4 separate regions of the Homo sapiens genome follow, and all the other regions are linked to region 3. The links come from fine-mapping of genetic effects on gene expression. A gene starts in region 3. Each other region holds a variant in brackets. All regions are shown on one strand. Distances are between the middles of the regions. Region 1 overlaps TGFA (transforming growth factor alpha). Region 2 overlaps TGFA (transforming growth factor alpha). Region 3 holds the start of TGFA (transforming growth factor alpha). Region 4 overlaps TGFA (transforming growth factor alpha).

What was found. PIP is the estimated chance that this variant, and not a neighbour inherited with it, causes the effect.
Region 1: its variant is the best candidate, but not a certain one, in a credible set for the expression of TGFA in anterior cingulate cortex (GTEx, PIP 0.54).
Region 2: its variant is the best candidate, but not a certain one, in a credible set for the expression of TGFA in spinal cord (GTEx, PIP 0.59).
Region 4: its variant is the best candidate, but not a certain one, in a credible set for the expression of TGFA in left ventricle (GTEx, PIP 0.86).

The regions. Positions count from the first base shown.
Region 1 is chr2:70,468,364-70,473,363 of GRCh38, reverse strand. All of the region lies in intron 2 of TGFA (transforming growth factor alpha), which reads left to right. It overlaps TGFA-IT1 (TGFA intronic transcript 1), which reads left to right. Exons shown (of 3, transcript NR_046798.1): 2 at 4,869-4,992. Among named protein-coding and RNA genes, the nearest start is that of TGFA-IT1, 11 kb to the left of the region's middle. The variant G/T (reference allele first, on the strand shown) is at 2,776.
Region 2 is chr2:70,495,532-70,500,531 of GRCh38, reverse strand. All of the region lies in intron 2 of TGFA (transforming growth factor alpha), which reads left to right. Among named protein-coding and RNA genes, the nearest start is that of TGFA-IT1, 16 kb to the right of the region's middle. The variant G/A (reference allele first, on the strand shown) is at 2,069.
Region 3 is chr2:70,550,802-70,555,801 of GRCh38, reverse strand. It overlaps TGFA (transforming growth factor alpha), which reads left to right and starts at 1,976. Exons shown (of 6, transcript NM_003236.4): 1 at 1,976-2,074. The coding sequence starts at 2,035. LOC124907824 (a long non-coding RNA gene) reads right to left here and starts at 3,094. Exons shown (of 2, transcript XR_007086906.1): 1 at 2,410-3,094. RefSeq lists a silencer at 1,846-1,915.
Region 4 is chr2:70,526,498-70,531,497 of GRCh38, reverse strand. The region is part of intron 1 of TGFA (transforming growth factor alpha); the gene reads left to right. Among named protein-coding and RNA genes, the nearest start is that of TGFA, 25 kb to the left of the region's middle. The variant T/G (reference allele first, on the strand shown) is at 2,294.

The DNA.
Region 1 (5,000 bases), 82 kb after region 3:
TCCCTGCTCACCAAGTCTCTCTGGGCAGCCACTGGGTTCTAGACCATTTACTTCTCTAAGCTCTGGCTTAGCAGTTCTGCCACCCGAGTGTAAGCCTCCGCACCAGCCTCTCCTTCACTCCATAGCTGCTTTTGCAGGTTCACGCATCACCTCCCAAGCTTGGAGTTCCACCCTTGTAAACTGGGCCTGCTGCTGCCCTGAAGCCAGCCTCCCATCCCAGAGCTGAGTCCAGAGCTTTGGGTGACTCCAGCCTGGCCTCAGGGTGGAATGGAGGCCTTGATACCTGGGAGTATCAGATTTATACCCCCCGCCAGCTTCCCCAGTAGCTACTGCTGACTCCCATCTTTACTAAATTAATCTACTGCCTTTTCTCCTAGACATCCAAAAAGTATTAGTTGGCTTTGCCATTGTAGTATCTGAAGACAAAATATTTAGTCCCAGGTCAGAAACTTTGGCTGAAAGTTCCTACTAAAAAGCCAGACGTCATGATTAAATTGTTAGAAAGTTAGCCATGATATCTGAGGAAGTTATGAAATGGCTGTAAATGATGTAAGCTCTGCAATGGGCAAACGTGTTCACAACTTTTGACATCTGGGGAAGAGAGTTAAGAGCCACAGGCTCAGCCGGCTCCCGCTGACCAGCACAGCATGAAGTCCAATTAGGGCTGCTTTTAAAGGGGGTGATTGCGCTCAGGGGTGTGGATGCTGCTCCCAGGGGAGCAGGGCTGTTGGGAGGAGCTGTCCAGATGGCTGTCTCCCTGGCTCCTCTGAACTACGGAGACCCCTCCTGTGAATTGGATGGGGGATTTCCCTGCCCCTCAATTGCTATTCCAGACCCTCTTCCTGTAAGTAGGGTTGGGCTCCAGGCCCTGTTAGTGGGTCTGTGGTCTCTAGGCAAAGCTTTCACAGCTTCCCCAGAGAGCAGTGGTGTCTGCAAGATGTGCGTTTGGTTAACATGCTGGAGGGGCCTCTCATAAATTTCATGGCAACAGGAACTGAGTGGCTTTGAAACTCCAGCTGCTGGTGGGCTCGATATGAGGTCTGTTCCAAAACCTGGAACATTTGCTTTTCCTATCGTCAGCCCCAAGTGCTACTCAGACTTGGTGTCTGGAGGAGATGGGCCAGAGTCCTGGGGGCCAGTGCCAGTCCTTCTCTGCCCTCAGCTGGCACATCTTGGGGAGACTTTCTTTGGATATTCCCTGCTGGCCTTTGCCACCTTCCTTTTCTAAGTGATTCTTTTTTTAAATTTTAAGTCTCTAGGCCTTTCCTTCCCTCACTCGCTATTTTCTTGAATTTCCAGAAAAAACAATAGAGTGGGAAAGGGAGAGTGAAGGGAGATAGAGAAAAAAATAGGGGGAGAGAGAGAAAAGCAGGAAGAAAAGAAAGAGGCAGACTCTGAGAGAGAGGCTGAGAGAATCATTCTTAGGAAAGATACCAGGAATTTGGGGGGTTCCTTGTAATGCTCATTTTTATAAAATAACTGGAGGCAGTTTTGCCCCCCAAGGAGGAGATGGTACTCTAAGTTACTGAGCAAACCCTTGCCCATTGACAAGGTTGTCTAAGCTTCAGTTTAGTTTTCTTATCTAAAAAATGGAGACTACTTAGGTTAAAGCAGGCCGCCTACCCTGCCTCGACTTGGCGGATGATGTAAGGAAAGCCCCCAGCACTTAGCAAGCACTCAATAAGTGACATCCCTGTCCCTGCCCTCCCCTACCTTCACCAAAGTGCCTCTCATAGGAATAGCCTTGTCTGCCTGGGCTGACCCTGCCCTGGTATTTGGGGTGTTCTTTGCTGAGTCTGGGAGGATCTAAGACAAACACCTTTAAAGGCCCTCAAATGAGAACAGTTACTCCGCCCTCACTTGTTGGAGATGGCTTTAGTAAAGCACATCAGCTCACGAGGCTCGTACAGCACCCTAGGGGCGCACAAGCCCCAGTGCTGCCCCTCCTGGAGCTGGCTCATCCTAAGGGTGCACAGGAAGAGCAGAGTGGTCACAGTGTGGCTTGCCCTTGGGACTGTGGTTTGACCCACTCCTCCCTGTCCACTTAGGTCTCAAGTGTGAATCACATCCCCTATCAGAAAACCTGTGACAAGCTACAAAGCTGCCAAATATGCCAGTGGAAGAGGAACCCGTTCTGCACATGGTGCACATTGAACTTCCTGGGTGGTGGGGGCAGGACAGCACCCTGCGCAAAGAACCTCGAACTTGAATTAAATGCTTGTTTTTAAGAAGTTTGGTTATATGGTGGGGGGGGTGCGGGGAGGAGAATGCACGTAACAGAATAGAAAGAGTAAGTTTAGGTGCATGTTCGTGTGCAGTGTATACTTACATGGTTCTCTCTACATAGTGGATTACAGATGGGTTTTATTCTCTAATATGGTACTTATTATATATTGATTTATTTTAATTTCCTAAAAATATGTCACTTTTGTAATGAGAAAATGTCTTGAAACTTTTGAAAAAGTTTCAAGAGTGAATGTATCATGGTTGTAGTCAGGAAAAGGGTTTTTTTTAATAAACAACCTTCTAATGATAATCCACTAGCATCAAGCTCCCTTCATCCTCTCTGCCCTTTGGGCTGAGGCAGACAGGTGGAATTATGGAGGACCAGGAACTTGCACTCTAAGCCTCAGGCTTGTTTCCACTCTGGTCTCTGAATACACAGAGCGAGACCACCACATGTCATCTGCCATCACTGTTACTGTTGCATGGAGCTTCTTCACAGCTTGGACTCTTCTGGCTTCTTAGTGAGCTGTGTGAAGTGAAAGAACTGAT[G/T]GTTTACACGGGCAGATGCTTCTTTGGGAAATTGTTCAGGATGTCATCCACCACAGCACATGAAGTCCCCTTCAAAAACACCCGCAGAAGAAGAGAAGTTGCTCTCTGACCGTTGCTCTCCAACCACAGACTTAGGGAAAGCTGAGCCTGTCCAGCTTGTGCAGAACAAGTATATATATTCCTATCTAATGAACCTTATACATCCTTGCTAAGACTGCCAGGAGGCATAGAGTTAGATTTGTCCCTCAGCTTTGGCATGTGCGTGTGATTTTCTGATATCCATCTTTGTGTATTAACCTGGTGCCTGTTTTGCTCATTGCTGCTCCTTACCCTTACTTTCCTTTGTCCCAATCTCTCCTTCCCTCTCTCACTGCCCGCCTGTCTGTTTCTTCCTGTTTCCCTCCCTCCCCTCTTCTTCTGTTCCTTCTCTCTCTTATCGCTCTCATAACCCCACCCCGTCTCTCTCTACTCTCTGTCTCCCTTCCTGTCTCCTTCCCTCCTTCTTCCTTTTTATGTCCCTCTCTCCCGTCTCTCTCCTTCTCGCTGTTTCTCCCACACACACTTGTTTCTCGTTTGCATTGCCTTTTTATGGTACCTATTTTTATAACACCACCTCATGTCATTTATAAAAAGAGGCAAAGGTATCCATCAATAGGGGTTAAATGAGACCATAGCAGAGTCCACCCTTCACCAATCAGTTTTAGAGAAGTGTTCCAAAACAGATTCCAAGTTTTCTCTTTCTTTGTATTTCTACTGACCTAATACTTTACCACGAAGAACCTCAGCAGATTTCAGGCTTTAGAGTCACACAGGAGTTTGAAGAGCTGGAAGATAATCAGCTCCAAAAAGGACCCTGGCCTTTCCACTTTTGCAAGAGCCCATTTATCCTTTGCTTCTGTGTAACACAAGCCTGCGTCTCAAACATTAGTGTGCATCAGGATCACCTGCAGGGGGCCAGACGTGGCGGCTCGCACCTATAATCTCAGCACTTTGGGAGGCCGAGGTAGGCAGATCACTTGAGCCCAGGAGTTCGAGGCCAGCCTGGGCAATGTGGTGACACTCTGTCTCTCTACTAAGATACAAAAATTAGCTGGGTGCAGTGGAATGTACCTGTTAATCCCAGCTACTCTGGAGGCTGAGGTGGGAGGATTGCTTGAGCCTAGGAGGTCAAGGCTGCAGTGAGCCATGAACGTGCCACTGCACTCCAGCCTGGATGATGAAGTGAGACCCTGTCTCAAAATAAAAATATAAATTAATTAATTAATTAATTAATTACCTGCAGGGCAAACATTACAGTATAGCAATTCTATTTCAATAGGCCTGACTTTAAAAAATCACCTAGCAAGTTTGTCCCACAGATTTCTGGGCCTCACCCCAGAGATCCTGATTCAGTAGGTCTGGGCTGGGTAGGGGTGGCAGGCAAACTCAGGGGAATGTGAAGCTGTCTGTCTGCAGATCACACTTGGAGGAACCCAGCCCAAAGCCCTGACAAAGGGACTTCCTCTAGCCACTTGGAGGTGGTGGTTTAAACGGCCTTTTGTGGAGCCTGTCAAAAGCCTTTTTGAACATGTACATCAAATGAGATCCACTAGCCCAGCAGCCCCCAACCTTTTTGACACCAGGGACCAGTTGCATGGAACACAATTTTTCCACAGACTTGGGAGAGGTGCTGGTTTCAGGATGATTCCAGCTTGTTACATTTATTGTGTACTTTATTTCTATTATTATTACATTGTAATATTTAATGAAATAATTATACAACTCACCATAATGTAGAATCGGGAGGAGCCCTGGGCTTGTTTCTCTGCAACTAGACAGTCCAATTTGGGGGTGATGGGAGACAGTGACAGATCATCAAGTATTAGATTCTCATAAGAAGTACACAGCCTAGATCCCTCACATGCACAGTTCACAATAGGTTTCCCGCTCCTATGAGAATCTAATGCCACTGCTAAACTGACAGGAGGCGGAGCTAACGTGAGCAATGGGAAGTGGCTGTAAGTACAGATGAAGTTTTGCTGCCTTGCCGGCCTGCATTGGCCTCTAGAGTCTAGCCCCTTCATCTCTCTGTGTTTGTTCCTTGACAAGTTCAGTGAGCACAGAGAAGCCAGTTATGCAAACTACAGCAGACCCTTCCTGTCTCAATTCAGCATCCAGCGTCTACTGTTAGCCAGTGACTGGGCCTGTTCCTCAACCACTCAAGCCAAGCACATGCAGGTGACTGT
Region 2 (5,000 bases), 55 kb after region 3:
ACTCATTTAGCCACAAGAATTCTCCAAAAGTACATTTTGCCATTAAGACTACAAGTTAACTTTTTTTTTTTTAAACTCTGCTTAAGTAGTATCACTTTGTGAGTGAATGTAGCCCCTGAACCAGGATGTTGTTTGGGGAGAGAGCTTTGATGATACCAATATTTTAAAATATCAGTGTATTTTTATTGGTGTTCAAAGGCTGATACTATTAAAAATCTGGACCAGAGAGGATTCTCAGTTAATATTTTTGTTTTTAAGTAAAAGAGTTCCTGATGCCCAGGCCACTTGCATGTGGTACCTCCTTGAAGAGGATATCCCGAGAAGCCTCTGGCAGCTCTGTCTAGAACTGCATCGTCCAATATGGCAGCCACATGCAGCTGTGGAGTGCTTGACACATGGCTAGTTCCAATGGAGATGTGTTGAAAATAGATACCATATACCATATAGTGAAGACTTAGTACATTAAAACTGAATATCTTATCGATAAATGTTTGTATTGCTTGTTTATTGAAGTAACACTATTTTGACCTTATTTGGTTAAATTAAATACATTATTCAAATCAATTTCACCTTTTTATCCTAAAGGTGGCTACTAGAATATATAGAATTACTTATGCGGCTTATGTTTATTTCACAGTTTTAGAACCTTGCGACACATTTGTTTTCACTCACATCCTTTCCTTCAATCCTGGGTTTCTCCCTAAACGCCAGCCCCAGGGTCATCCTTCCTCAGTCTCACCCCAATATTGTGCTGCAGCCAGCTGTTGAGTGCTTTCTCATGTCCCTGTACTTGTGAAAATGCTCTGCATACGGATGAACCCCTAGTGCAATGTCTGACACAATAGATACAAAATAAAAGTTGAGTAAATAAGTGAATACTAGCTCTCTGTAGCTCACCTATTTCTTTATAAAGAAACGAAGTACAGAAAGTTAATATGGCATCGAGGTTACTTCTAAAAGTGTGGACCATAGGCTGTTGGCATAAGAATCACCCAGAACGCTTGTAAAAATTAAGATTTACTCCAGACTAAAAGGTTCAGTCAGGAGATGTTAGGTTATGCTGCAGTGACAAAATTTCACTGGCTTAACAGCAGGTTTAACTCTCGGTCACTCTGTGTCCACTGCGGGCCCTGGGATACTCCCCAGGAAAACTGATAGTTCAGGTTAGACCTCCATATCAGCAAGTGGGATCCATCAGCAAGCTGGGTACTCCCGCCTAGTTATGCGTTACTTGTCAGTGCTCACATTTCATTCTCTGAAACAACTCATATGGCCATACCTAGCTCCAAGGAGACCGGGAAGGCCTCTATATACCTAGAAATAGAGGTGAGTGTACACTGGTAAGCAATGGGAATGTCTGCTTCATAGGCCAAATGCAAATCTCAGAGGTAGGGCCTGGGGATCTGCATTTTTAACTCCCCTAGTGATTCATATTCACTGTAAGTTTGAGGACCATTGAGTAGAACTAGAGTTCTCAACTATGGCTGCACGTTAGAATTACCTGGGGAGTTTTAAAAACACTAGTGTCCTGGCCCCACCCCAGAGATTCTAATTTACAGGGCCTGGGGATGGCATCCAGGCATCAGTAATTTTTAAAACCTCCCCCAGAGATTCTAGTATGCAGCCAGGGTTGAAAACCACAAGTGTAGGGGAAAAAGAGGGAAGGACTCTTGAATCCTGACTCTAACACAGACCGAATCTGGTTTTGCATGTCTGTTGAAGGCAGTAAAGATCAAATGAATGTGAAAGCATTTGTCAACTATAATATAGAACAAATACTGGCCATTATACACTGGCAGGTGTGGACTTTTATGCAAACTAGATCTGTGCAAGCTGTCATATATGTATGACATGATCTCACTGCCACACACAAAACCAGGAGAGGAGGGGCAGCATCCACCACACCTTTGCACCTGCCACCTTTTACAGTCAGTAAATGGGTGGTCCCTTCTACCTCCCCTCCCCTCCACTTAACTTGATGATAAAGGGGATAAAGAGAAGAAAAAACTCATTCCTTGTCTTGATTTTTTTCTCTCCAGCCTGTTCCAAAACCCTTAGCCCAAGCCCC[G/A]TTGCCCTTACTCTCTGTTAATCTGAAACTGGTGCCTCAAACCTCTGGTCCTCTGCAACCTCATCTCCTCCTCTTCCTGCAGCCTATTTCCCACCTGCCACCCTAGTCCCATGCCAGGAAAGGCAGGGCCCTGGGGGAGCCCCAAGCCTGCTGGCTGATGGTTTGAACAGCATAAGGAATCCATATTCTCAGAAAATTTGTGCCCAACATTGTCCCTGGTGGTATTGTTAAGAATGGCAGATTTAGCAGCACTCTGTTTAAGAGGTGAGGTATGCAATAGGTAAGACCAGCTTTTATGAGCTGCTCCAGCTCTTTCACCCACTTTTTGTAATATTCTGTTTCCTGTGGATTCTGAGATCTCACCAAATGATTTACAAACAAGCTCTTGGAATGCTACTGTTATGTAAACTGGAAATTGTACCAACAGTCAGTTTTCTTTGGTTATAAAAATACCACATTGGCTTTCTTCCATTGGCAGAGCTAAGAGTTAATGCTGGAATAAGCTGTTTTTAGTTATTTTTCCTCTTGTATCTAACAATTTTCAAGGCAGAACAATGCAAGAGTACCTCAAGTAAATAACTGTAACACCTTTTGTGAAAATACAGATTTGCGCATTTGATATGAATTAGCTTTAAAAAATGATGGAAAGAATTGCTTAGCCTGGATAGCTGTGACATAGGTTCTGTAAAATGATTCTTACTGGTCAGGCTGACATGGCCAAGGTTCTTGGCAGTGGAAGTTTTATGTCAAGCAGCAGATCACAGGCCACCACTGTCTTTTCAAAACCTGGAGGCCACTTTCTCTTATCCTACCCACCAGCCTGGCCCTCCTTTCTACAGCTGGTTCTTAATCAGAAGTTAGCAGGGCTGGGATGCAATGTGCCCAAAGGAGAAGATGCTCAAGGACCTCAGCTCCTTGTAGGCAGTGACCACTGGTGCAGGCTTTTCTTATTTCAGTGCCTCCCATATAGTAGGTGAAGAAAGTGCTTTTCATTATTTTGTGCATGGGGTTAGGTCTGGTTGTGGACCTTGGAGATTCACTGAATTGAACAGAAATGCTTAGCAATCTTAAAATGAGCCTCCTAAGTTAAGATCTATGTCATATACTTTGTTGCAAAGAAAATAGTTAAAAATGTGTGTAAGCTTCTGGTTTAAATGGCAAACCCAATACTGCATCTCTCATATCAACAGCTACAAGAACATACATAGTAACATACTCTCAGAGTAAAGTCCAAGCTCTCCATTGCCCTGCAGAGCTCTGCCGGGTGCAACACCCATTCCCACTCCATCTGTAGCTCATACGTCTTTCTTCCTTACTTTCTATGCTCCGGTTCCCTGGTCTCCTTTCTTTTTCCCAGATGTATCATGTCCTTCTCTAACTTCTAGGCTTTGCACTTGCTCCTCCTTCTGCCTGGAATGCTCTTTCCCCAGTTTTTCCAGTGGCTGACTCATTCATGTCCTTCGGGTCTCAGATGTGCTTCACCATTTCAGAGAAGTTTTCCCTGCATGGTGATTCTGGCAGTAGCTCTTCATCACATCTCTGTGCATTTCCTTAGTAGCACCCAGTGCTGTCTATAATGATTTCGTTTGTTTATTTACTTATTTGCCTGCCTCCCCCATTAGACTTAAGTTCCTTGAGGGCAGGGACCTTGTCTGTCTAGTTAATTAATGGATCCCCAGTACCCAGCACAGTGCATGACGCATACAAGACACTTGATATTTTGTTGAGTGAGTAAATGAATGAAGGAAGTAAAGAAGGAAGGAACACTATGCACCATACCAAGTGCTTTATATCACCCATTTTGCCTTTATAACATTCCCTATTGATTCATGGGGAAACTGAGCCCCAGAGAGTTTCAGTGACTTGCCCAAGGTCAGAATTAGTAAGTCACAAAGAGCCAATATTTGCTCTCAGGTTTGTCTGCCTATAAAGGTTTGTGCCAGAGTCAGGTCTGAGGTTATGGTTCAATATTAAGTTTTTGCCTCTTTCTGTATCTTCATAGGTATAATAGCATGAAGTATTCTGTTTTTTTTTCCCTGTGGCTCAAAATTTTTTGTCCATGGCCTTTGAAATAGGTCCTTTTCTGCTATTTTCTGCAAAAGAACTTGGTGGTAACAAGAAAGGGTTCTGGTAGAAGCATATTTTGGAGGGAGCTGTGGAGATCTGCCTTGAGTGTGAAGATTACGAATGACTCTTATTTGAGAAGCAATATGTGTCTTAAAGTCTCATTTTTAAAAAACAATAAAAATAATTTATGGCAGCAACTGGAAAGCAGTGTCCAAGCTTCAGATAACAGTGATACTGCTCTGGTAACACCACCTCCTTCCCCCAGTCTCGGGGCCTTCAGGTTCACACATGTGGGTATGGCAGCAGCTTTGCAGTATTCAGCTGAGATCTCCACGGCAGCCAGGCTCCTCAGTGCTCAGGAGCCTCTGGTTGGAAAAGAGATAAATCACTATTTCTACAAATTATATGAGTATATATCAAGGAAGCACGCACAAACTGCCACAAATGCCTATTAGAAATCTTAAAAGTAGCCAGTAGGGTGCAAGTAAGAAAACAGTCAGTAGTTTTCCTATAAACCATCAATAACCAATTAAAAATATACTGAGCAGGAGGGGAAAATGGGGAATTATTATACTATTCAAACGGTAGAATGTTCCAGTTATGCAAGATGAAAAACTTTATTGATCTGCTGTACAACATTGTGCTTATAGTTAATGATATTATACACTTAAAAGAATCTCCCTCAAATAACAATAATCATAGTAACAATAAAAAATATACTGGAGAGAATCACCTTCAAAATAGTTGTAAAATATAGACTATAGACCAAGTAGAAATAATCTTTAAAAGATGTGTCAGAATCTGTTTGAAGAATACCATAAAATTTCCTTTTAAGGTAATTTATTTGACTAATAGAGAGACCTGT
Region 3 (5,000 bases):
GCCTCAGCCTCCCAAGTAGCTGGGACTACAGACGCACGCCACCATGTCTGGCTAATTTTTTGTATGTTTAGTAGAAATGGGGGGTTTTACCATGTTGCCCAGGCTGGTCTCGAACTCCTGAGCTCAAGCAATCCACCCACCTCAGCCTCCCAAAGTGATGGTATTACAGGTGTGAGCCACCATGCCTGGCCTGCAAGTTACCTCTTGATTTAAAATATTTTCCAATCATGAAGGAAATTGACTTGATTCTGCTACTTCCCTCCACCTCTGACTTTGGGGGTAGGGGACAGATAAGCAGAAACTGCTGAACATGACCCTCAGCCGGCTGGGCAGCCATCCCTCAGCCACAGTGAGCTTGATTTGCGTGTTCCAGTAGGAAGCAAGGAGTCAGGTCCTTCTCTAGTCCTGGGGAACAGGAGAAGGGTGGGGGAACCCCTGATTCCTCCCCTTCTGTAGCCAAAGCAGACTAGTTTAGGGAGGAGACAGGGAAACCACCAGAGCAGGTCAAGATCAACCTGAAGGAAGTGGGAGTCAGGGACAACCTACTAAAGGAAGTGCATGTGTGCCTTGTACATGCATGGGGTGGACCAAGGAAAAGATTTACCCTAAAAGAACAAAGTATGCTCCGACAAATCTATTGAAAGGAATGATTTACACTGGTGCTTCCTGCCCAAATGTTGAGACCAATGGCCTGGTGCTTCCTTCTTGAAACTAGGTTGCTCTACTTACATGAAACAAACTGGGCAGAGGTCAACCGTGAGAGCCTGAGCCTCCCCAAGTAAACAGCAAAAGATTCCCCAGGCCCAACAGCCCCCACCCCCACCTTCAAGGAAAGTGGATCTACCCGGAGCACGTAGGCCAGAGGAGGCAGGAGAAGAGGGTCAGTCCGTGAGCTCCGGGTACCTGGAGAACATGAATCTCCCGGGTGTACTGTCCCCATGAGGGTCACCGAGGAACCTATGGATCTTCCACTCTTCGCCCAGAATGTCTTCCCTCTATCCCCTCCACCTCCCCAAATTCCAGCACCAGGGGCCACCTCAGAGCCACAAATCCTGAAAGGACCACCCAGGTGACTCGGGCCCACACACCCCTCTTTCGGGGTACACTTGGTGGCAGGCTAGCAGGCTTTTGGCCTCAGCTGGTGGTGCCATATAACCAGATTCGTCACAGAGACCCATTTTTTATCAGTCCCAGGCCAGAAGTACGAAGACTGATCTTAACGATGTGGCCTGCCTGGGAGGTAAGGCGGCAGGCGTTGCCAGAATTGATGGGAACTGTGGCACAGGTGGGAAACCTGGTTTAACAAATTCTTCATTGATTCAGGGGACCACTTTCCTTGAGCCAAGTCTTGGCAAGCGGCCGGCGAAACTCACAGGTCCCTTTCCTGGCTGCGTCCCCAGCCTCCAGCCTTCCCCGCCCCAGAGATGCCCCAGGAGCGGCCCCTCGGTGTAGGTAACGGGTGCCCGGGCGGCTCCGCTCCGCCGCCTAGAGCCTGGAAGCCGCCACTGCGGCCCAGGACAATCCGGCTACGCGGCCGGCGCCGACCCCGCACGCTGGAGTCCGCTGCCGCACGGCGCTGGCAGTCGGGGGTGGTGTCTGAAGTCAGGCGCTTCCTGCCTTTTCGTCGGCCCGGGTGCCCGGCTCGCGCCGCCAGGCTCTGGGATCCCAGGTCGCCCCGCCCAGCAGCCCGCGCCCTGCTCGGTGCGCTCAGCGTCCCCGCCCCTTACCCCAAACCCCCACCCTCTGTGCCCTCAGGGGGGCACCCCCATCGGGGCGGGAGGGGGGGGTCAGCTGTGCCCCGGTCGCCGAGTGGCGAGGAGGTGACGGTAGCCGCCTTCCTATTTCCGCCCGGCGGGCAGCGCTGCGGGGCGAGTGCCAGCAGAGAGGCGCTCGGTCCTCCCTCCGCCCTCCCGCGCCGGGGGCAGGCCCTGCCTAGTCTGCGTCTTTTTCCCCCGCACCGCGGCGCCGCTCCGCCACTCGGGCACCGCAGGTAGGGCAGGAGGCTGGAGAGCCTGCTGCCCGCCCGCCCGTAAAATGGTCCCCTCGGCTGGACAGCTCGCCCTGTTCGCTCTGGGTACGTACGCCGGCTGCGGCGCCCCCTGCGCCGCGCGACACCCTGCTTCCCCCGGTCCCCGCCGAGTTCCCCTTTCCGGGGGTTTCTGCGCCCGCCTGGGAGAGTGGAGAGAAGCGAGTAGTCTCAATGGGTTGGCGCCTGGGAGGCAAGGGGAGTCATTAAGAATGACAAAGAGGGGACTGTCCGGTCGAGCGCCGAGGCTTCCCCGGGAAAGTGGCTGCCTGGGCCGTGCGTGAGAACACCTGGGAAGGGGAAGCGGAGTGTGAACGGGCTTGAACTTTAATCCGCCGCAGCTGTGTGTCTGCTCAGACACATGCCTACACCTACCTGCTTACCTGGCTGCCTCCAAGCCCGGCTCAGCCGGCGTCGCTGGCGTGTAGACTGGGCCGCCTCGGAACGGGGGCCGGCGTCTAACCCTCTGGCCGGGTCTTGCCTGCGCCCCTTTGGCACCCCCTGCCCACCTCTAAGCCCCAGCGACGAGCAGAGATGTTCAAGATCGGCAGAGGCGCCCTCGATCTCTTTTCAGAGCTCTTGAGCTTTGGGGGTAGGTTTTGGATTTTTGGGCGGATTAATGGTTCCTTTAATTAACTTCCCTGGGAGAAGTGGTTTCGGTGTCCGCCGAGGGCAGGAGCGAAACCCTAGACCGAGTGTTGCCAGTTTCCTTTGAGTATGTCCTTGGAAATGAAGGAGGGATGGGAAAGGTGAGGGGAAGTTAAACCCCTCTCCCGGGTCGGGTCTGCGGAGCGGTGCGTTTTTTGGCGGTGAAGTTCAAGGGTCTGTCTGGACGCGGTGAGGGCGCAGCGCCGCGCGCCTCCTGGCCAATTCTTGCCCCTTGTGCTGGTGGGTCTCTCTGGTGTTGAGATAGCTGATCAATAGCGCAGGTGTCCTGGTTATTGCTAGTCTTCCGTGAAGTGAATTGTTCGTTCGATATGCCCCGAGTTTAACCCGTATAGCATGCGGCTCGCTGCAGGGTGGTTAGAGTCTGTGGAAAGCCATGGAACTCCTCCCCAGAAATGCCCAGAGCCGCAGCCTCACCCAGCTCCGTGTACAACTACAGGGGGTTCGCGGCCCCGCCTGCAAGCCTGCCCTAGAAACGCTGATTAAAAACCGCAGCAGAAGGGGAGGCATCCTGTAAGAGAAATACAAGGCAGTCTTGGAACCGGATGCTCCCAGCTACACCCTTACCTGAAACTCACCAGCAGGTAACATGGGTATGGGAGGCTTTTCCCCCACATTTTTGAAGAATTGCCTTTTTTGTGTGCATGTATTGACTGTTGCTCTGATTTAAATTTTAGAAAAAGCAATAAAACATTACCAATACAAGGGAAGCTTCCTGGATATAATTATCCCTTGTAATGTTTTTGCAAATAATAGTAGTAAGTAGTAGTAGTAATAACAGCTGATGCTATTCGAGCATTTTACTCTGTGTCAGACACAGTCCAAGTGCTTTACATTTATTCATGCAGTTTTCACACCAACCGGATAAAGAAGGTGTTAATATTATTCTCATTATATAGCAGAGGAAAGTAAAGCACACAGGGTCCACAGTAAGTAACTGGACCAGGATTGTCGAAGAACGTGGAAGGAATGTGAATATGAAAAGTCACCTAACTTGTGGTCATTATAGTCCCATCTCTCTTTTGGGACTTTGCCTTAAAGAGAGATTATGTGGAATACCCTGGAACTTGTTGTTAAATTGAGTTTCCTATTGAATTCCTGGGATCTCAAGGTGGTTATTCGGTAAAAATTAGAGGCAGGAAATGATGAAGATAAGCACATTTGAGTAAGTGTTTGAAAGCTGTCCCTACACCCCACACTCCCATCCCAGAATTCTCGCCCACAAAGACTGCATTCATTCATCATGTAATTTTTCTCTTTTGCCTGAATGTTCTTTTCAGCTTGATCTTTGTTTCCTTCTTTAAGAAAATGATGTATAAACTTTAAAAGATTGATCAATATGTAAAAACTTGCTCACACAGTTCCAAAATGTGAGCAGTTGAAAAAAGTGGAGAAAAAAAAAAGGCAGGAGTAATTTACACCAGTGAGGACTCCTTTTTATTTATATGTCTTTAAAAGAAAAATCACAGCTGTGAGTTCTGTGCGTTTACTAGAACTGCTGCCTCCCACATATAGCTTTACTTTGCACATTTCCTTCAAAGCTGCTTTCCCCTCTGATTTTTCTTAAATAGTTGAAGGCAGTTCCAGGAGAATCAACCAGTGTTCCATCGCTACCCGAGATCTAGGAAACCTCCGTGGGGCTAGTCTGAGAAGGAACTGGCTGTTAGGAGTCTCGGTTAATGTTTGATTACTTGGAACCTGAGCATTGATTAATGTTTTCAGTAAGAGAATGTGAAGACTGTTGCCCAAATGGCAACACTGGAAACATAACCCAGGTTCCTGTGGTGGCTGCCCTCCCATGTCAGGTTTCCATCACTGGCAGGCAGACCGCACGGGGGCTTGGCATTTCCAGTTACATTTCCTCCTCTGTGTTCACGGAGCAAGATGTGTGATCTTGGGCAAGTTACTTAGCTTTTCTATGCCTTGTTTTTCTCACCTGCAAAATGGGGATATTAATAGGGTTGTTGAATATATTTAATGTATGCAGAAGGGTGCCTGGTATGTAGTAAGATCTTAATCTTATCATCATCATCATTGTTGTTGTTACTTTGGGCCCCATAGAATTCCAGACATCATTGCAGGTTATGTGAGTTGTATAACTGGGAGAGTTTGTAGGTTTTCGTTTATCTCATCTCCATGCTCTTTACCATTCCTTCGAAAAATATCACCCAACCTAAAAACCTACCTAGGTAATTTCTGGTGAATATGATTTGGCCAATGACAAATTCAAGCAAATCTGGAGGGTTTTTTTGTTTTGTTTTCTTTTGTTTTTTTGGTTTTTTGTTTTTTGAGACGGAGTCTCGCTCTG
Region 4 (5,000 bases), 24 kb after region 3:
TCTAAGAATTAGTTGAAGGTGTCCCCACTTATGTTGCTTATATCTCATGGCTTTTTATTTTTTTAAACGCAGTACTTGAGGCTTTAAAAGGTGTTCCATAAATCTAGTACCATAGCCATGGAGAATCACTACGGAGTCCTGTTAGACAGGATTGGCTTCCCAGCAAGGCAAAGAGCCCATGAGGGTGTGGACTGGTATGTTTGAAACCCTTCAGGACACACTGGGGTGTCTGCCTCCCCTCGAAGTAAGAGGCAAAAAAACACAGCTAATGGGACTGACCATACTCTGTGTGGACGTTCAGGTCTGTCAACTTTGGGCCCTTGTTGAGTTATCACATGAGTATTCTGTCTGGCTCTTAGTCAGAAGGAACACTGCCTTCTACCTTTTCTTAGAGGGGAGGACTCCTTTCCCTGGAGGATATAGGGTATGTCTCAGTGCTCCTGCCCGAGCAGCCAGCTCAGCATCATCACACCCACTTCAGTGGAGGTGGCTATCTCTGTTAAACTTTCTCCCACAGGTGCAGTGTGGAGATATAAAGGAAAGTGGAGACCTGGGGCCTCAGGGATTGCTGCAGAGGTGGTACATTGAGGGCATAGAAACCTAGAGGAGAGCACAGTCTTGGGCTGGGCATTTGCAGCTTGCACGTGCTCTGGTACCAGGCCAGCACCGAGCCTGTTTGCTTTGGTCCTTGTGGACCCTTCACCTCTGAGCTTGGGTTGCTGTCAGACCTGCCTGCAGGTGGTATTGCTGAGGTCTGTGCTGAGCTAGATGAGACACTGTGTGAGCTTCCAGAAAGCCTTGGGCATAGCCGTTGTCATCTGCAGGCTAATTTCTCCTGGGTATTTAATGCATGTCTTATAAGTAAACCTGGGGTTACCTTAGACAAAGGTTGTCCAACCTGTGGCCCATGGGCCGCCTGTGGCCCAGGAGGGCTTTGAATGTGGCCCAACACAAATTCATAAACTTTCTTAAAACATTACAAGATTTTTTGTGATTTTATTTTTGGCTTATCAGCTATTGTTAGTGTATTTTATGTGTGTTCTTATTCTTCTTCTTCCAATGTGGCCCAGAGAAGCCAAAAGATTGGACACCACTGCCTTAGATGGAGATCCCTGGGATCTGCCTGTGAATGACCAAGGACAAAGCCTTCATTCCAGGTGGCAGCATCCTGAAGTATTAATATTTCAGGGATGGTGGGCAGACCCTGGAAGGGAACTTGAAAGTGCTTCAGAGAAGTTTTAAACTATCCAGACCAAGATAAGATTTACTCATGTAGGTCTGACTCTCACAGGAGTTGAGCCTGCTAATGGATATCTCTAAGCCTGAGTTCCTACTTCTTCATGTTTGCTTTTTAAATTTTTTTGAGGGAGACAGAATCTCCCATCTGAGGTGGTCAGGAAAGGTTCTTGCAGACATTGGTACTTGAACTGGCCTTGGAGGTTGAACATAGCCTAGGAAGTAGAAGGAGAAGGCAGGGAATAGTATAGATAGAGGCAGAGGGAAGAATGAGGCCAAAGTATACCCCCACATTCAGTCCCTCAGGAAGTTCTGCTGGCTCTGTTTCTGTTATATTCTATGTCTGACAACTCTCATGTCCCAGTGGCCACCCCACTGTGACCTTTGCCTGAACTTCTGCAGTGATCTCACCCCATTCTTCCAGTTCCCACTTGTGCCTCCTTAAGGCCTCTTCTGTCCCCAGGACCCTGAGTGTCTCTTCTGTCACATGCATCAGATGTTATTGCTCCTCTGCTCAAAGTCTTCCAGGGGCTGCCCAGCTTGGAATAAAGTCCAGGCCCCTAGTGCTCCCCACTGGAGGCGTCTGCCCCAGCATCTCTCCAGCCTCATTTCCCGGTGTGCCCTCCCCCAGCCACAGCAGCCACCTGCTCTTTTCTAGGACTGGGGCGGGGGGATTCACTCCTCAGGACCTTTGCACGTGCTCTTCCTCCAGATATTTCCAGATCTGGCTCCCTCGTTTTATTCAGGCCTGTGTCAGATGTCATCTATTCAGAAAAGACATCCATGATGACTATTTATTTACACGCATCCGTGATGAAAAATGCTCCAGTGTCTGTGTTATTTGTTGGAGAACTGTCATCACAGAAAGGTTGGAACAGTGTCTCCTTACTCCAGATGGAAATCACCTAGATTCCACAAGGTGCTTATAAAGTGCTGCTGCTCAAATAGGAGAGTCCAAGTGTTGTCTTCTGTAGTTCATGCCCCCTGGATGTCTCTGCGGAACTGCCTGGCAGGTTTGGCTTGAAAAGAAACAATTCTTTCAGCAAGTGTTTGCTGA[T/G]AGCTTGTCTATGTGTCAGGCACTGTTCTGGGCAATGAGAATACGGTGAACCAAAAACACTCCCCTCCACCTCACACACCTGACTTGGTCCCAAGGAGACAGAAAACAAACAGACATACATACCATAAAATGTCAGGTTGTAACAGTGCTGGCAACAAAGATAAAGCCAGGGATGGGAGTGAGCTGCTTGCTACACATTTTCACCAGAGGTGGATGCTGGACAATTAAAAGCCCCCCTCGTCCCACCCAGTGCTCTCTTGTACCTTTCTCTCCTGAAGTGTAAGAAGGAACAGGGAGAGGAGGCTGGAAGAATTCTGTGTAGCTGTAGCTTCATTTTATGATAAAGGCCGTGTCTGATACCCACTTGGGAGCCCTCCCTTATATAGCTGGAGGGTCAAGAAGTTGAATTAAACTACCCTTGTAGTAACTCTTAGGTTCTGCCCTCTTGGTCACAGAGCTCACTGACAATAGATTTTTAAAAATTGTATTGATAACTTATCCCCAGCTGAGAGCCAGAGCGCCTAAGATACATCATCTTTTTTGTGGGAAACCACACAAGCAAGGCCAGTTGCACTAAAACCAGGATACTGGCTTTTCTTGGTTGTTTCAAAGGCTGCTCAGATTCCTGACTGTGTGCCTGTCAACCTTTCTACTAGATGACTTCTCTGGAAGACCCACCCGCCCCCCACATCGTTCTACCCTTCCCTCCCCACTCCCCCAACCCCTGCCTTTTCCATGCCTCTTTCCACAGGGATCATTGTTTTTCTCGGCCTCCTCTCGTCTGACATGCTCCCAGTGTGAGAGTGAGGCTTGGGGTACAGGGCAGCCCAGCCCGGCGAGATCAGCTACTGACCGAAGCTGGTCATTGCTTCTCCCTGGGAGCCACTGTGAATACATGCTACTATGACCCTGTTATTAACATGTGATATTGGTGTAGTATGTTTGTTACAATTAATGAGCAATTGTTCAAAATATATCAAAAATATTGGTATATTATTAACTAAAGTTAAGACTAGTTGACTAAAATTAGATGTTACTGAACATAGCCCTTCAACACATTTCACCATAGGTGAGAAATAAGCGTGCTTCTGCCCTCTCTGTTTTCAGCAGGGTAGAATTCATAGTGATGGCAAAGGCTGGAAGTGAGCTTTGTCTGTCTTTGCAATCAGCTGAGCCCACAGGGCAGCAGATGAGGCTGAGAGCCACAGTGCTCCGTACAAGGCTGCTCATCCACGACTAAGCAGTGTCTCCTCTGCATTTCCAGAAATGTCTGACTCAAGCTGCCCCTGCCATGGCTTCCTTAGGAGAAGGACGTTGTACTTGAACCTAGGGAAACAGTATGACTGGACAATCCAGAGTGCAGAGTAAAGTCATCCAACTTCACAGTGCTGTAACTGTCATCAGCTGGTAATAGAATACTTTTTTAGAGTAGCTTTAGATTTACAGAAAAATTGAGCAGAAAGCACAGAGAGCTTTACCCCACTGCATAGTTTCACCTGTTATTAACATCCTGCATTGGTGTGATATGTTTGTTACAATTGATGAGTCAATTTTGGTACATTATTAACTAAAGTTAATATTAGTTAACTAAAGTTAGATATAAACTAAAGTCCCTCGTTTACATTAGGGCTCACTCTTGTAGTTGTACATTCTATGTGTTTGGACAGATTTATAATGACACATACCCACCATTATAGTATTGTACAGAGTCATTTCACTGACCTAAAAATTGCCTGTGCTACACCTGTTCATCCCTTTCTCCCCTCTCCCAAGCCCCTGGCAACTACTGATCTTTTTACAATCTCTACAGTTTTGCCTTTTTCAGACTGTCATATAGTTAGAATCATACAATATACAGCCTTTTCAGACTGGCGTCTTTCATGCAGTAATATGTATTTAAGCTTTCTCTATGTGACTTGATGCTTATTTATTTTCATTGCTGTATAATATCCCATTGTATGAATGTACCACAATTTGTTTATCCATTTACCTACTGAAGAATATTTTGGTTGCTTCCAAGTTTTCACAGTTATGATTAAAGCTACTGTAAGCATCTATATGCAGATTTTTCTTTGAAGATAAGTTTTCAACTAATTTGGGTAAATACCAAGGAGCACTATTGCTGGATTGTATAAGGGTGTGTTTGATTTTGTAAGAAACTGAAAAACTGTCTTCTAAAGTGTCTGGACCACTTTATCAATTGGTTTTGACTCCTGAACCACTTTCATTTAGATGAGTCTAATTTTTCCAGAAAATACTTCAGAAATACACTAACTGTTAGTAACCTGAAACCCTTTTCTCACTGCACTCTTACATGGGACTTAAAGGTGAAATGCTGCCACCTTCATTCTTCTTTCTGTAGTCTTCCTGCTGGTCTCTGTTCTTGCTAGAACTAAACCATCCTAGCAGAAAACTTCCTCTTTTCCCTCTCCCTCCTTTTTGCTTCTCATCACCACCCTTTCCCCAGCAAAAGTTAAAGGGGAAAATGGACTAGAGCAGGGTTGGTAGGGGAGATCCCACTCCCATTTTCCCATAGCAGAGCTATTGCATTTTCTCCGGGATTTTTGTTTTCCTTTAAAATGTCTTAAATTGACACTGCTAAAAGATACATGATGCTCTCTGCCCCACAGCTCTGGGGTTGGCATGCCTTGTTCCTTACTGGTTTGTCTCGAGTCAATAAATGAGATTCTGCCCATACAACTAAGTG